2 linked regions of the Homo sapiens genome follow. The protein of the gene in region 1 purifies or fractionates together with the protein of each later gene. This does not show direct contact. Each region holds a gene or a part of one and is shown in the gene's direction. Other genes may lie near its edges.

Region 1 (3,448 bases):
ATGTTTCCCTTTGAGTGGCCACTCTTCCTCTGTCCATGCCAGGAAACCTCTGACCCCAGAGACCCTTGGCTATTCATAAGAGAAACTATTAGCCAGTCTGACTCTAGCTGTTTACCCAGCCCCCCTCTTTTCTGGAATAAACACCTTCGTCAGTCTCCTATTTGTATCCTAGGGACCTGTTGCCCACTGCCTACCTTCCCACTATCCCATGTCTGTTTTATTTGCTACCTGCAAGTTTGTTTATAAATAATCACAGTTTCTCATTTTGTTTGGTTCTTAGGCATCTGGTGTCGAAGGCTCAGATATTCCTGATGATGGTAAACTGATAGGATTTGCCCAGCTCAGCATCAGCTAAACCACAACCCTGGAAGAGGCGGCCTAAGGAGATTCCACACATGCGTATCTCTGTTGCTTCTATTGGCCTAAACCCACTACTGCCAAAGAACCCAGCAACAAACCTCCCGGCTAGGAGCTTTAGAAGTCTTTATGTTCTTCCTGCCATCATTCCTCCTTTTCCCACAGGGAAAGAAAAGTTGGATCACTAGTGGCCAGCATCCCCAGAGTTCCGTTAGTAAACTTACTTCATATGTCCCCTGTCTTCCTCCATCTGAGAAGTGGCCCATGTGCTTCAAGGCCCAGGAGGGAGATCTGTCAGCTCATTCTTGCCTTACTCCAATGATGGCCCAGGTGGAAAAGTAGCAGCTGTATCGGGCTTCCTCATCCTGCCTGTTCCCCCACACCTGCCAGGATATGGACATCTTGGGATATCTCTTTACCACTGAAGTAGAATTGATTGTTCAGCTGGAGCCCAGAGAATTTAATTTAATGTTTTTTCTTTGTACCTGATGTGAATTCTAGCAACCTTTGTTAGGAAAAAGCACAGCCTCAGATGGAGGCAGCCTAAACTGTGTTCTTGTTTTGTTCATGGTGTTTCTAAGCGTTTTGCTGAAGCTGCTCTCAGGCACCCCCTTCTTCATTGCTCTCTCCAGAAAGGGTTGCTAGCCTTAACTTCAGCTGGTGCAAAACATCTGACTGTAGCCGAACTTCAGCCATCAGATCCTTCAAAGTGGAACTTTGGATTGTTTTTACAGACAACATCGAGTAATGGCTTGTAAATGTGAATTTTGCCAGAGGTGGTTTTTGAACAGGAAAATCATAATTCATATCATTGGAGAAGTATTTATTTTCAAATATCAAATTGAAGAAAAACTCAATCCTCCCATGAAAATCAGTTCGCCTGGCCTCCAAGTCGTGAGGAAATGGGTATGCAAGGCTGAGATTTCTACAGCAATAAAGGAGACACACACTGGGCCAGAGAGGCCTGCCTTCTGCCTGCTCTCCTGCACTGACCCTTTGGAGGGGGTCTCTGTGTGCTGAAGCTAACTCAAGATGGAAAGTGAAACCACATGTGCCGTGACCTTTAGGTTTTATGAGTAGACAGTGTTCATTTGATTTTCTACAGAAATAATATAAATTATTCTTTAGGTTTAAAAAAGAGCACTCATAATGCAATATGTGAATAATCAGTGAGGTTGATTTTTCTTTTTTCCTACCGTTTCATAGTCTTTGTCTAACTGCTAGTAACCCTACCGAGTTTTATATATGAGTGGGATACTCAATCTGGCCTTAAAAAGATACACAAAGATGGGCTGTGGGTCCCTGGAAAGGGGGAGAGTTGCCCTTTACAGAATCACTCGAGCCCTTTCCAGCACTGTTGGTCTGATGAACAAGGTTGTTTTACCTTATTTTCTCTTGGAACATATCTGAAAACCTTCCCCACAAATAACTTGTCACACCTTTTGTTTCATTCTGAGTCTTTAGTTTTAGTCATGGGCTTTCTTCACCTGCTCTAGGTGCAAAGGCATGTTGGGAAAGAGATGGATGTTGGGGAGGAAGAGAGGAGATGGATTTCAGTTGGGAGTTAGGAGGAGAGTAGGTGAGATGATCAGACACCGGAGTTCAACGTCCCAGCAGTCTTGGTAAAAGGAGGGAGCCTGCTGAGCCAGGAGGGAGAAAAGAAGATTGACCAGCTTGCTAGAAAAATACTTAGCTTTTCTTTTTCTTTTTTTGTGGAGGGGGGACGGAGAGGAACAAGGATGGGGAGGTAGGAATGAGGTATAGAAAAGAGATAGCATCTTCTTTGGCACAAGACTAGTGGCTTACCGCTTACCTTAGAGTTTTGTTTTTTTTTTTTCAAACCCATCAAAATCTACTTATTTATGAATCCAAGGGGTGGCAGCATCACTCTGTTCTAGCATTCTTTGTGGAGATGGTCTGGTGCCTAGCTGGGAGTGAGCAGCAGCCCATCCCCTGTTCACTTTCTCTAGCCCATCATTACCTGTGAACTGCAGTGGGGCAGTCATGGCAAATAGAATTGGGCTGGGGTTTCTCCTTCTTTTCAGTTCATTGTTTGCCCTGCTAGGAATTAGAAGACAGACACCATGTCCCAGGACAGTGTTACTTCTTCTGCATGATGTGTGGTAGACTCCCTTTGCTGGCTTGTGCAGTGATACTGAGAAAATACATGAACAGAAACTGCCCAGGTGGAACAGCACGTAACCTAGTGAGTGACTGTACTCCTTTCTAGGAATGCTGATTCAGAGTGCACCTCTTTGACTAGGTCCCAGGATCCCCTTGTCCCTGGAGTAGGGACTAACTATAGCACAAAGTAATATGTGCCAATGCTATTTGTGAAATGTTTGGTCTTTCTAAACGACTAAAGGATTTGTTGGGTTTTTGCTTAAGTTTTGAACCAAATCCTAGAGCCAGCTGATAATATTTAATAATCTGGAGGAGAGAATAATGATGTACCAATAAGTGGAGATTCCTCCTTATGATGTATGCTAGGTTATGGAAGATGTAAAATATTCAACTTTTTCCTCCTTTTTTTGGACTTTGTATTTTACTGCATGTTTTCTTCATTTTTAATCAATAAAGAGTAAATTGTCCTTAGTGGTGTATGGACGCTTTATTTTAGTGGCCGTTGGCGGAGAGCTGTGGGTTGTGGGTCAAGGAATCACCACCAACTTTAATTGTTCATGCGAATAGAAGCCAAAGTACATATAAACTGTAAAGTGTGTCTGTTGATCTACAAATTATCTAGAACCATTAAAGCCATTATATAGTTGGGGAAACTGCAACCCTAAAAGGGAGGGATGAGATCAGCCCAAGGAATTGGATAGGATGGGATATGGAACTCCTTTTATTATCTTTTGATCTTTTTTAAATCTTTGGTTTTGCTTATGCTGTTGGGCAAGGAAGGATGCCAGATTCAAGCCCTTGGGAGTCTCTTTCGAAAGTTCAGAACAGGGCTGAACTTATCTCTTCTTGGCTTTGATATTGCAATGGTGAAGTTACATGTAAGATTCTAGGCTCCTTTGTATTCCTGTTATCCTCCCACTGCAGGAGGAATCTTCCCTCATCATCTGCCCTTCCCAACAGCAGTGGC
Region 2 (6,043 bases), on another chromosome or scaffold:
TTTCTATGTTGCTTCAGACTTTGTAAACAGTTTAATGACTATATATTCCATTAAGCGAATTTCACAGTTTACGGTTGCTCACTCGTTGGATTTTTAGGTTGCTTTGGGGGAGTCTAAATAGCCACAAAGATGAACAAAGGGTTAGAGAGCTCAAATGCCACATCCTTCATGAAGCTGGTCCAGTTCACCCCCGGCTGGAGGTTCTCGCCCTCTGCTTGAAATACTTGACTCCTTTAATCTGTACCTCTCATATGGCACACTACTGTTTACATTGCTCTGTAGTTGTGAGCAAGGCTGTATCTTTCTGTACTAGGTTGTATGCTCCTCATAGTCAAGGTCCATGTCAGTTTTGTCTCAGCAACCCGGACAACATAATACTTTTGTATATAATAAGTACTCCATAAATATTTGTCGAATGAATGAATACTGAGTGACAAAAAGAAATCTAAGAAAACATTTCTAGGTGAGAGGCAGTCACATCCAAAAACTGGTTTCTACATATAGAAAAGAATATTCTGCAAATCATGGTTATTAAATATCCTGTCTGTTAAGGAAAGAACAGGAAGTAGACATAAGTAAACAAAACTATAGAAGATTTAGGTTAGCTTTATGGAAGCAGAATAGATTTTTTTTTCTTTTTTTTTTTGAGGCGGTGTCTCGCTCTGTTTCCCAGTCTGGAGTTCAGTGGCACGATCTCAGCTCACTGCAACCTCCGCCTCCTGGGTTCAAGCCATTCTCCTGTCTCAGCCTCCCAAGTAGCTGGGATTACAGGCGCTTGCCACCACACACGCCTAATTTTTTGTATTTTTAGTAGAGATGGGGTTTCACCATATTGGCCAGGCTTGTCTCGAACTCCTTGTGATCCACCCACCTTGGTCTCCCAAAGTGCTGGGATTACGGGCATTTGCCACTGCACCTGGCCTGGAATAGATGTTTTAAAATGAGATCTCAGGCCAGGCGTGGTGACTCATGCCTGTAATCCCAGCACTTTGGAAGGCTGAGGCAGGCACATTGCTTGAGCCCAGGAGTTCAAAACCAGCCTGCGCAACATGGCAACACCCCATCTCTACCAAAAAAAAAAAAAAAATTTAGCCAGGCATGGTGGTGCATTCCTGTAGTCCCAGCTACTTGGGAGGCTGAGGCGGGAGGATCATCTGAGCCTGGAGGTCCAGGCTGTGGTGAGCCATGATCGCACCACTGCACTCCAGCCCAGGCAATAGAGTGAGACCCTGTCTAAAAGAAAAAAAAAAAATTTAAATGGGTTATCAGCTGTTTTTGTTAGTTTAAGTACAACTCTGGCCTGTAGATGGAAAACATGAATTAGTTACCATTACAAGTGTTCTTTGAGCCCCCAAAGTTTATATTTTGTCTTTAACTTGCTTTTTTTTTTTTTATCATGTGTTCATGTTATGTATTTGTTTCCACAGGCAGGAGATGCTGCATGCTTCTACGATATAAAGTTGGGAAGGAGGCGGGTAGAGCACCATGATCACGCTGTTGTGAGTGGAAGATTGGCTGGAGAAAATATGACTGGAGCTGCTAAGCCGTACTGGCATCAGTCAATGTTCTGGTAATAGTGGTGTGCCTTGGAGACCCAACTGATTACAACTCAGTATCTCTAGGACCATAACACAGAGTTATGGTTTGGTTTTATTATGAGCCAGTTAGCTTCATACAGAAGGGAAAAAAGTCCATCTTATGTCCACACATTCTACCCTCAGGTAGCCATCTGGCAGAAGTGTCCTGTTTAGTTTTTCACCAAACTGATCCTTTTGTAAAACATTAAAAGAGAAAAAAATTATTTTAAGTGTTCTGTCTGGCGTATGTTAGACTAGGTGAATGAATGGAGATGGCACCAGCACTTCCGGCAAAATAGGTCAGAGGCCGAGGTGGGCGGATCACGAGGCCAGGAGTTTGAGACCAGCCTGACCAACATGGTGAAACCCCGTCTCTACTAAAAATACAAAAATTAGCTGGACGTGGTGGTGCATGCCTGTAATCCCAGCTACTCGGTAGGCTGAGGCAGGAGAATTGCTTGGACCCAGGAGGTGGAGGTTGCAGTGAGCCGAGATCACACCACTGCACTCCGGCCTGGGTGACAGAGCGAGACTCCGTCTCAAAAAAAAAAAAAAAAAAAAAAGGAGTGTCAGAAAGCATTCCAGTCCTAAAAGATGAAGGCTGGTCTGGTATGGTTGCTCATGCCTCTAATCCCAGCACTTTGGGAGGCCAAGGCCGGGGGATTGCTTGAGCCCAGAAGTTCGAGACCAACCTGGACAACATAGCAAGAGCTCGTCTGAATTTTTTAAATAAAAAGTTTTTAAAAGTTAAAAAAAAGAAAAGTGGAGGCTAAGGGGAAATACTGTAGGTTAATGAAGCCATAAAACATCTCAAATTCTGAATTCCATAAATGTGGAACACTCTTTAAAGCTTCAAAAAGGGAATTTCAAGACAAAAGTAGTGAATAGCAAAAGTGGGAACCTCATCACTTTCCAAATGTGGCATGGGATAAAAGCACGAATAAATTCAAGAACGTTTCAATCACCGCATGGATATGTGGTCGTGTATAATGGCTTTTTAAGGAAAAGTCAAAGCTATTAGGGTTAATCTTACTTTCTCATGGTCATCCCTAGATGCTCTAGCAACAGCAGATCAGTTGGCATCTCTCGTGATCTGCATACTAAGTTCTTTGGTTGGCATAAGAGTGCGGTGTTGGTCGGGTGCGGTGGCTCACATCTGTAATCCCTGCACTTTGGGAGGCCAAGGCGGGCAGATTACTTGAGGTCAGGAGTTCAAGACCAGCCTGGCCAACATGGTAAAACCCCGTCTCTACTAAAAATACAAAAATTAGCCAGGGTGGTAGTGGGTGCCTGTAATCCCAGCTACTCAGGAGGCTGAGGCTGGAGAATCACTTGAACCCAGGAGGGAGAGGTTGCAATGAACTGAGTTCGCACCCATTGCACTCCAGCCTGGGCAACGAGTGAAACTCCGTCTCAAAAAAAAAAAAATGCAGTGTCATGGAGAATATGTGCTACCGTGTCATTCCTTACAGTCCCTTGACAGAACACCCTCTTCTCTCTTCTTAGGAGTGATTTGGGCCCCGATGTTGGCTATGAAGCTATTGGTCTTGTGGACAGTAGTTTGCCCACAGTTGGTGTTTTTGCAAAAGCAACTGCACAAGACAACCCCAAATCTGCCACAGAGCAGTCAGGTAAGAAAGTCCTAGCACTCCTCTTGGAGAGTGTTGAGAAGCAGTGGTCCAGATTCTCCTGAACAAGGGGTTTCTGTATTGGCCAGAGGGGCTTGTCAGTGAAAGCCTCTCTTCATGTTGTGCTTTAAAAGAAACCAAACCCCAAGTCCTCACTCTTTAGTGGTCTGAGATTTGGCAAAATCAGGTATCCTGGTCAAAGCATAGATTCAAATATTGTGGGTATCTGTCCTAGACAGTGGACAGTGGCTAGCTCAATGACACTGCTGTTTTGTGTGTCTCTGGGAAGACCTTTCTAAGGAAGAAAACAAGAAAACCTGAACTTTTTAGATTGCGTTTTTATTTTTCTTTCTTTCAGTTGTCATTTTTATTATTTTGCTTCAGGCGAATCTCAAGAACACGGCCTGATAGGCTTAGCTTAAGACTGGCTATCCTCCATGGGTCCTGCGCAGGGAGGAACTGGGCTGAGTAGTTATTTAGCTGCCTCCCATTCCATTTGGCAGATCTTAGTGCCAGGTTTTCTTTAGATGGGAGGCACCTCTCTTGGAATGGACTTCTCTCCCACACATGTCTCTTTCATTAACTCCGAGACCTTATTCCTTGACCTTAGCTCAAGTTATTTAACTTCTGCATCCTTTTGCCAGAGGTGTCTCAAGGGCAAGGTGCTGTTTAAGAAGGAGAAAGCAAGACATTATATGGATATGTAGGTCCTTTTCCTGTGTAATTCTAATGTATTCCATATTCCTTAATTCTGATCTCTCCTAGTAACCTAGTAAGTGGATTCATGTCACTGCTTTGTCGACTGGACAGTATTATTTGGAGGCTGGTGGTTCTCAGCAAGGTGCCCCCTTCCTATGCCACCCTTCCCTTCCCCTCTTTCTCTAGGAAGAAATGCCTCCACTATGGTTTTTCCAAATGGAAGTGCCTTCTGCTTTGTCTAAAGTACCTGTCTAATAGCACTGTCCAATAGAACTTTCTGCTGCGATGGAAATGTTCCATCTCTGCTCTGTCCAGTACGTTAGCCACCAGCCACATGTGGCTTTTGAGCTCATGAAACATGGTGAGTACAGATAAGGAACTGAATTTTACATCTTACTCAGTTTGAAATGATGTTCATTTACATGGCTGTGGCTAGTGGCTACTGTATTTGGACCATGCAGCTCTAGAATTATTTCTTAGAGGACAAGAACCAGCCTTCTGCAGTTTGAAGAAATCCAGATACCAGGAAATATTCATAGCATGAATTTAAAATGAGATAATAAGGGAGGGAAGTTTAGGGTCAGACTGACCCTGTGCCCAGGAGCTGGCAAGGAAGACCTTTCCTTGGCTTTGTCACTGGAGAGGGGCTGGTGAAGGCCAGGGTTTACTGAGGGGGCATAGAGAAATAAATCCTCTAGAAGTAGCTTGAAGCAGGCCTCGAAAGACTGTTGGCTTCTAGAATTTCCCAAGCTCATAATAACTGAAGTTTTGATTTTGCTTCCATGTTTATTTGTTTTGGGGGCTGGCCACAGGAACTGGTATCCGATCAGAGAGTGAGACAGAGTCCGAGGCCTCAGAAATTACTATTCCTCCCAGCACCCCGGCAGTTCCACAGGCTCCCGTCCAGGGGGAGGACTACGGCAAAGGTGTCATCTTCTACCTCAGGGACAAAGTGGTCGTGGGGATTGTGCTATGGAACATCTTTAACCGAATGCCAATAGCAAGGAAGGTAGGTGCCTGTCATAACTCTTAGAGGAAGATGGGAAGTACGGCTTAGAAACATTCCTGTAACTTCATCGGGTGCCCTGAGATGCATTGTCCCCCGGCCAGGTCAAATTGTGCCTGAGCAGAACAAAGGTATAGCCTTGGCTCAGGAACATTCTTTTTCACTTGGGACTTGGCTGGGTGACCTGGGAGTTGGCAGGCTGCTTGTTTGGGGTTAGTAGAGAACTGTTCCCACAACTCCCTCCCAGTGTGATATGGGGACTGCCCCAGGTAGCCCCATTGTGTGGGCATGGCCTGAACGCAATGGAGTAAGTTAGGGACCTATTGTTACTCTCTCTCCCTCAGATCATTAAGGACGGTGAGCAGCATGAAGATCTCAATGAAGTAGCCAAACTATTCAACATTCATGAAGACTGAAGCCCCACAGTGGAATTGGCAAACCCACTGCAGCCCCTGAGAGGAGGTCGAATGGGTAAAGGAGCATTTTTTTATTCAGCAGACTTTCTCTGTGTATGAGTGTGAATGATCAAGTCCTTTGTGAATATTTTCAACTATGTAGGTAAATTCTTAATGTTCACATAGTGAAATAAATTCTGATTCTTCTAAATTAAATTCTGTTCTCTTGTCAAGGGGGCAGGTGGGTGAAGGTGGAAAGCCACGCATATTAGAAAGCAAGCAAATTGCAGCACCGACCAAGCACAGGATTTTTCTCAGCCATGTATTCATGCCCTACTCCAGACGCAAAACTCCTTTCATTTCCGAACTTCCCTCACCCCTCCAGACCTCTTTGCACACACCTGCTGTGGCCTCGGCCCACAACACTTGACTCCCCTCCTCTCCTCTCAGGAAGTTCACTATCTCTGAAGACTTTCCCAGCCTTCCAAGCCTCATCCTTGTGTATGTGTCTCCCTGCTAGCCCATGACTTCCTGGAAGCAGAAGCCCTGATGTTAAGGCCTTGCTCATGGTTTTATCTCCAGAGCTTAGCACAGGGTCTGCTTCATAGTAAGTGCTTCATAGATCATTGTCGAATGAGTGAACAAATAAATGTATGGAATAGACTTTGTTTACCTGGAACAACTCCTGTCCCAGAACTGGATTGGGTCCTGCAGGGGACAGAAAGGGCACTTACTACA

Evidence for each region.
Region 2: the proteins of OXSR1 (region 1) and AIFM1 purify together in Homo sapiens (affinity purification with mass spectrometry; 2 studies listed by BioGRID and IntAct, with this or other methods). This does not show direct contact.

What each region holds. Positions count from the first base shown.
Region 1 is NC_000003.12:38,252,537-38,255,984, forward strand, and holds the end of OXSR1 (serine/threonine-protein kinase OSR1), read left to right. Parts: intron 1-280; coding exon 281-355; 3' UTR 356-2,948; downstream 2,949-3,448. UniProt on the Homo sapiens protein: Effector serine/threonine-protein kinase component of the WNK-SPAK/OSR1 kinase cascade, which is involved in various processes, such as ion transport, response to hypertonic stress and blood pressure.
Region 2 is NC_000023.11:130,128,840-130,134,882, reverse strand, and holds the end of AIFM1 (apoptosis-inducing factor 1, mitochondrial isoform AIF precursor), read left to right. Parts: intron 1-1,427; coding exon 1,428-1,570; intron 1,571-3,083; coding exon 3,084-3,208; intron 3,209-4,716; coding exon 4,717-4,913; intron 4,914-5,254; coding exon 5,255-5,326; 3' UTR 5,327-5,521; downstream 5,522-6,043. UniProt on the Homo sapiens protein: Functions both as NADH oxidoreductase and as regulator of apoptosis.